Linked DNA regions of Homo sapiens. The protein of the gene in region 2 purifies or fractionates together with the protein of the main gene of each other region. This does not show direct contact. Each region holds a gene or a part of one and is shown on either strand. Other genes may lie near its edges.

Region 1 (3,500 bases), on a different chromosome or scaffold from region 2:
GGTATAGGACAGTATCCGAGACTTCAGATGCCATCTCACCTCATTCCCTTATTTTCTTGATGAGGATACCAAAGGAGCCCAGAAGGTTCTTAGGCATTGCCAGGGCAGGAGCTCCTGATCATCCAGTCAGGGGTGTGTGTGTGTGTTTTTATTTGCTTTGTTATGTCACTGTACTGTTTGCCTTTCATGGTTGACTGTTTAAGTTCTTACTCTTTTTTTAAAAAAAAGCTTGAAGTTTCAGAAGTCAAGTCGCATCATATACTTAAATGGTATGGAGGATACATTCATTGTCATTTTATACAAGTGAGCATAGTAGAGACTTGGCATTTCTAAAATCCAAGATAAGATTATTCTGGATAAGCCAAAGTTTTAGTTTAAACAAAATATGTAAAATTTGATTACATATGGACTAAGGTTCATTAAGTGACATTAAAACCAGTATGGTTTAAACTGCTTGATTCCAGCCTTTTATGCATTTTTTATTTTGAAGTTGGCAGTTGGAACCACTCTTCAGAAAGCCCTTCCCCTGTGAATGAATTTGAACTGTTTTTTTTCTTGGAAGATATTATAAGTTAAAAAGAAGCATGAGAATCCAGTAGTACATTCTCAAGTGCTTTTACCAGGATTGATCTACTTAAGTTTTAAGGTACTCAGAATTACAGGAAAAATTCAGCATAGCTGCTTTTTTTTTTTTTTTTTTTTTTTTTTTTTGAGGGGGCAGGGGGATTTGCATCTTTTAAAAGGAAGTAGTCAGTGTTTTCTTTTGATTATGTAACGTCCTACAAACCTTTAATGCATTTGAGAATCAACTTGTTGAATAGATTTGAATTTCATTAAGTTTGGTTATAGCAATCATAAAGGTTTAAAAACCCTTTATGTGCAAAAGATATTAAAAAATGCAGATATGTTACAGAGCTGCTCTTTCTTAAATAGTAATTGTGAGAATTCTTGCCCTTTGTGGGAAAAAATTTTGAATTAAAAAATAAAAGCTCCATGAATGATTAATGACCAAGAAATCTTGTGATATTTTTTAAAACAGCTATGAAAGAATACCATTCACTAGTAAAAGTGCTAGAAAACACAAAAATTGCTCCATTACTTAGAGGTTTTTTTTGTTTTGTTGTTGTTGTTGTTTGTTTTAGATTTTCTGATTCAAAAACCAGCAGACTCGAGCAACGATAGCTTAAATGTGGATGACTTTGGTCTAAATCTTTACTGTTATTTACCTCTTTGATTGTTTCGTTATGTATCAATCTGAGGGAAAAAAGTTCTTGTTAGGATATTAGTAAAATTATGGTTAGTGGTGTCACTTTTTCTATTATTGCCAAGAATGGTTGGTTAGGATTGCTATTCTAAGTATTATTTAACGATGCCTCTCATCTTGAAGTTTCCCCTCCCAAGAGATTCTGAACACTAAATGTGATTCTCTTACATTCTTATTCCAAGGAGGAGAACTAATGTAAGAACTTAAAAATCTTTTGCATGTTTTCTTCATAATGCAAAAGAGCAAATACTAAGAAGGGCTAACTTTCTTGAAAATATGACTGGCTTCCTATAGGACAGCGACCATTATTTGCTGTTGCTAGGAATACAAGAAGTGCTTGAAAATTCAGATCACATTAGCATGTTACAGCATTTGGCATTTTTCATACAAGAGGGTTATCTTGCTAACATTAACTGCTTAAGGACAGAAGGCATAACACAAGATTAGAATAACTGCCCAAAGTTGGAAAATGGAATATTAAACGACCCGTACTGCATCTATGTTCCTTATACTGTGCTGGGACCACAAAAGAAGACTAAGTCAACATCTGCCCTCTAGATCCAGGATCTAGCAAGAAAGACAAAGAAGTAGACCTCTAGCAATCTGATACAGTATGAATGACTTGAGGCATGAATAGTTTCATGGAGCACAAAGAAGTAGGTAGGTAGTGGTCCTGTGTGAAGTTTGCAGTGCAGAAGGAGTTTAGCTTTTATAATCTTACAAGCAGGTGACTTCTGAGCTGGCAGAGAAATGCAGTAGGGGGCTTCCCAGGAAAGGAATCAGCATGAGCAACGGCATGAAAATGCATGGCATGCTCAAGGAATGGCAGTATGGTCTGGTTAATTCCGTTCCTTCTTTCAGCCAACACATATGAAACACCTGTTTGCCAGGTGCGGCATTAGGTACTGGGGCTACAAAGATGAATAGATCCTCTTCTCTGCCTTCAAGAACTAAAAGTCTAGAGTGGGAAACAAGTAAACAGATCAATTATAATTAAACTTGGTGAGTGTGTAACCGAGCTGTGAACACATTGCTCTGGGAATGGAGAAAAGGGAGTGATTTGTTCAATCTGATCTTCGGGAGAGGATTAGAGTAATTACCACAGAAGTCTTCTCAGAGGTGGTAATTCAGGAGCTTGGTTTCAAAGCCTGAGTAAGAGTTGGCCAGGTGAAATAGAGAGAAACAGAGCATTTGAGATCAACTCTAAGAATCTGAATTGTATCTATACATTGATAGTAAATCAACATATTTGTATTCAAGGGATGGTTTGGTTTCATTTCTCAGTATTTGAGGCTCATCATTCTGAACATGACTGATTTTATAGGGCTGTAGAAAATAACTGTGATTACTAGAATTTGCTAGCTGTTTAGAATCTGAGTAACCAAGACCTTCCTGTAACATGAAAGCAGCTTTTCAAAGACTATTAAGATGTGTTATAAACCAGAAATGTGGCATTTGTGTGCTGTCAATGAACTTTCCTTCCAGTGCCAGCCTTTAATCATTTAGAGGCAATACTGGTAGATTAAAATTTGCCCATTTCTACTGTATGCCTCGTGTTTTCATGAACAGTCTTTCAGATGTCTGGCTGTATCTGACTTGTAAAGCTACACTATTCTTTGCTTCTTGTTTAGATGAGTCAAAAGGAGGAATGCTGAAATTCAAGCTAGTTTCTACATTTGTATAGATGTGAAGAACAGCATTACTACAACTGTTTATCCTTAGCTACATGGGAATTTTGAGGTTTGGTTTGGGTTTTTTGCTTTGTTTTGTTTTTGAGACGGAGTCTCCCTGTGTTGCCCAGGCTGGAGTGCAGTGGCACGATCTCAGCTCACTGCAGCCTCCACCTCCCAGGTTTAAGTGATTCTCCTGCTTCAGGCCCCCAAGTAGCTAGGATTACAGGCATGTACCACCATGCCTGGCTAATTTTTGTATTTTTAGTAGAGATGGGGTTTTACCATGTTGGCCAGGCCGGTCTCGAACTCCTGGCCTCAAGTGATCTGCCTCCCAAAGTGCTGGTATTACGGAGTGAGCCACCATGCCCAGCCGTTTTGAGGATTTTTAAATGTACTATAAATGAGACATCTCACACTACTCAAAATAGATGTTTCAATATTAGAATTTTGAATACAGTTACCATAGATTTTTTTTACTCAAGAGTCAATTTTGTTTCAGATGTCCAGAGAGACTATTATCTGACAAAAATGCTAAGGATAGACTTTGGTCATTATATTTGTTT
Region 2 (3,500 bases):
TAGTTGAAGTTTAGTGACTTTACTAGAATATTTTAGTGCTGACTATTCTGGATTATTTTTCCCAGGGACATGCTTTCTTATTTTTGTTTGTATCTTTTTCCCAAAATGTAGAGTCAAGTCTTCTTTTATTTCATGAAGAATTTCTTAACTTATATCTAAGTTTACGGTTTATTTTTCAGGGACTCCTTTTTTATGTATTTTGGATTTCTTTAGTCTGCACTGCACTCTACAATTTCTCTCTAATCCCTTTGAGTCTATTAATATCTAATTAACTTAGTTTGCATTTTCACTTTAACTTTTGCTACCATTTTATACTTTCATGAGTTTCTCTTTCTCTGTATTACTTCCAATCTCTTTCGTTTTCATAGTACTTTTACTTTTTCTCATTGTACCTTTTGGTTGAGCACTTATAACTTAAAATTCATCTCTTGTTCTTAATTCACTCACCTCTCTCTAACTTCTTGCATATCTGCACTATATAATTGCTTTCAAAAGGTGATTTCTATTCATTACATTTTAAAAATTCACGGTGAAATGTTTGGTTACAATTTTCAACTTTGTTTATGGTAACGTGTTTAGTTTTTGCTCCCCATCTCCATTGGTTTTCTCCTTTCCTCTTTTCCTCCCTCCCTCCCTTCCTTCTTTGCTTTCTTTTTCCCTCCCTTCCTCCCTTCCTTCCCTCCCTCTCTCCTTCCCTTTCTCACTTTTTCTCTTTTAGTATCTTTATATAGATTCTATGCTTGTTCAGGTTTCTTTCTTTTTTTTTTGAGACGGAGTTTTGCTCTTGTTGCCCAGGCTGGAGTGCAATGGCACAATCTCAGCTCACTGCAACCTCCACCTCCCAGGTTCAAGCAATTCTCCTGCCTCAGCCTCCTGAGTAGCTGGGATTACAGGTGTGTGCCACCATACCCGGCTAATTTTGTATTTTTAGTAGAGATTCGGTTTCTCCATGTTGGTCTGGCTGGTCTTGAACTCCCGACCTCAGGTGACCCACCCACCTCAACCGCCCAAAGTGCGGGGACTACAGGCGTGAGCCACTGCACCTGGCCTCAAGTTTTCTTATGTGTCACTGAGAAAAGTGAGTTTTTTTTGGTCCAGCCAATGGAGATAGACAGAGTGGGTTTTGTTGTTTGTTCTGTTTTGTTATTGTTGTTGTTATTTTACAATAAAAGACTGTACTTCTCTGCTTCCACAGATGTAGACTGCTTTCTGTAATATGATTTTTCTGTATAGCTCTTAATTTAGCCTCACTTTGTCTGCTTTTTAGAACCAAACTGCTTCCATAGATGCTTCTCCCTCAAATTGTTGCCTCATATCTACAAGGTACCCTTAGCCTTATAGGAAGTAAGTTTGCCGGCTCTTTTTTAAAATCTGCAGCTTCTGGACTGTTTCTTCAAAGTGTCTTTTCTCTGTTTCCTCCTGTACACCCTCATGCTGTATCATCACTGTTTTAGGAAACAGTTCATTGAATTTGGGTCTAGGATTTCACTGTTTCCTATTTCCTCTAAGTAGGACATTTGCATAATATTTCCTCATTGTCTATGTGTTGGGATGATTTCCAAGAATAAAAAGGGGAAATATTCACAGTACACCATAATGTTCAAACTGGAAGTTTTCAAGTTTCTTATGATCTCTTTTTCTCTCTCTCTTTTTAGTATTCCTCAAGTATATTAAACTTTTTTGACTGAAAAGAAAAAAGTGTTACAATAGGAAAATTATTTTTTTAAATCACAGTAAAGCACAAGTAAGTTTATGCTACTCTTCTCCCTGAAGATTGTTAGTAAAATTTTAGATGGCTCTCCACACCCATAATTTCTATTTATTCAAAGAACTCATGTTGTTTTGGCCACTTGAGCTATAATGTCACTATTATGTAAAAATATTTGATATATACCTTTTTGTTGTTTCAGTTGTTTTGTTTTATGATGAGTATTTTTAGGTGGATATGAAAGTGGTATTCTGCTATGTCTTCAAATTATATTTCTATTCATGCTCGGTAAGAGGAAAAACTCACACCTTATAGACAACACAGCACTATTTTGGAGACACTATTATCTCTCATCTGCCCACATTGATTTTGGACTCTGATTTCTTAGAGTAACTTAGATGTGCCAATTGGAAAATATAACCATCTTATTTGGAAAAGGGTGTTCAAATATAGTGCATTTTTGTCTGAGGTACAAGAATGCAACCAGAAGCATATAGTTGTATTTCCAAGTCTACAAATGGTAGCAATCTCCAAACTGCATAAAATAACTTTTATATGTGGGTTGTGTCCTTTGAAGAAATTGGTTCTATTTGCTGTAGTCTATGCAGTGATAAATTTGCTTAAGTGCTCTGCTAAATTATTTTATGTTTATGTTGCCAATCATGTTGAAGACATAAAGTCTTGTATTTAAATTGAGATCAGTACAAAAAAAAATGGGTGAAATAGGACAAAGAATGTGGAATTCAGATTTTACTGTCCCTTTTCTATTTTTCCTCATTCCATAAAGAAATTATACAAAGAATAAGGGAAACTTATTATTCAGAAACAGGCTATGAAAAAGAGAATGATAACAATGCCAGGAAAGTCATGGAAATAATTAAATGTTCTAATATATTAATATAACACAAAGAAAAATCAGAGGAAATTTTAAGAAAGAGAAAGCTATTTTATAATTAATCAAGGCTCCAGAGAAAAGTTTTTAACATTAAAATTTTTTTAAAAGACACAGTAATTTATATTTTCTCCTAGTATTTTATTTCCTTTAAAGGAATTAAGAAAACCAAATTTCCTGTCTTCTTAATTCCCAAATTGGGAGTAACACAAATCCAGCTGTATTTACTCTTTTCTGTGTGTTTTATAATCGTTTGTATGACATTCCTTCCTTTTTCTGTCTTCTATTTGTTAGTTTTGGTGTTTTACCTAACTTGCTTTTCTAGTCTTTCCACATTTATAGGCTTCATACAGCATTGTTTATATGTGATATAAATAAGCTGATCTGAAATTGTTATAAAATCAACTGCCGTTTCTGAATATCACCAACATGTACTTGAATCCTTCTGGTTTTCAGGATCCTGGCACCTCTCCAAGGCCTCTGTCCTCCCTTGTTCTTTGTTCTCAACTCTGCCCCCGTCACTTCTGGACCAGGCATGCTGGTTTGCTTGCAACCCCTGAGCTACCCTTTACCAACAGCTCTCTCCATGGCTTATTTTCTCATATTTTCTTCATTGTCCATTAACAGGAAAAACTTCTCTTTCTTGAAGAACCTTAACATTTCCATTTTGTTTTTCTGTTACCAAACCAAGGATTTCAAATTTTTAGCTTTATTTTACACTTTTTAAAAGAAGGACAAAATGAATAGTAATGTAACAGTAGAATTATTGGAAAGGCAAAACAAAACAAACAACAGAACAGAAACAAACTATGCAGAAGCATTGTTTTCCTTTCTTTCTGTCTGTGCTGTGTATTGCTTAAGAACTCTGACTCACTGGACCTTCCTAGAACTAGTCAGTGA

The links. Proteins that work in one complex are often made in the same cells at the same time.
Region 1: the proteins of BANK1 (region 2) and ITPR1 purify together in Homo sapiens (affinity purification with western blotting, with the first as the bait; one study listed by BioGRID). This does not show direct contact.

Annotation. Positions count from the first base shown.
Region 1 is NC_000003.12:4,839,348-4,842,847, forward strand, and holds part of ITPR1 (inositol 1,4,5-trisphosphate-gated calcium channel ITPR1), read left to right. Parts: intron 1-3,500. UniProt on the Homo sapiens protein: Inositol 1,4,5-trisphosphate-gated calcium channel that, upon inositol 1,4,5-trisphosphate binding, mediates calcium release from the endoplasmic reticulum (ER).
Region 2 is NC_000004.12:101,832,230-101,835,729, forward strand, and holds part of BANK1 (B-cell scaffold protein with ankyrin repeats), read left to right. Parts: intron 1-3,500. UniProt on the Homo sapiens protein: Involved in B-cell receptor (BCR)-induced Ca(2+) mobilization from intracellular stores. Promotes Lyn-mediated phosphorylation of IP3 receptors 1 and 2.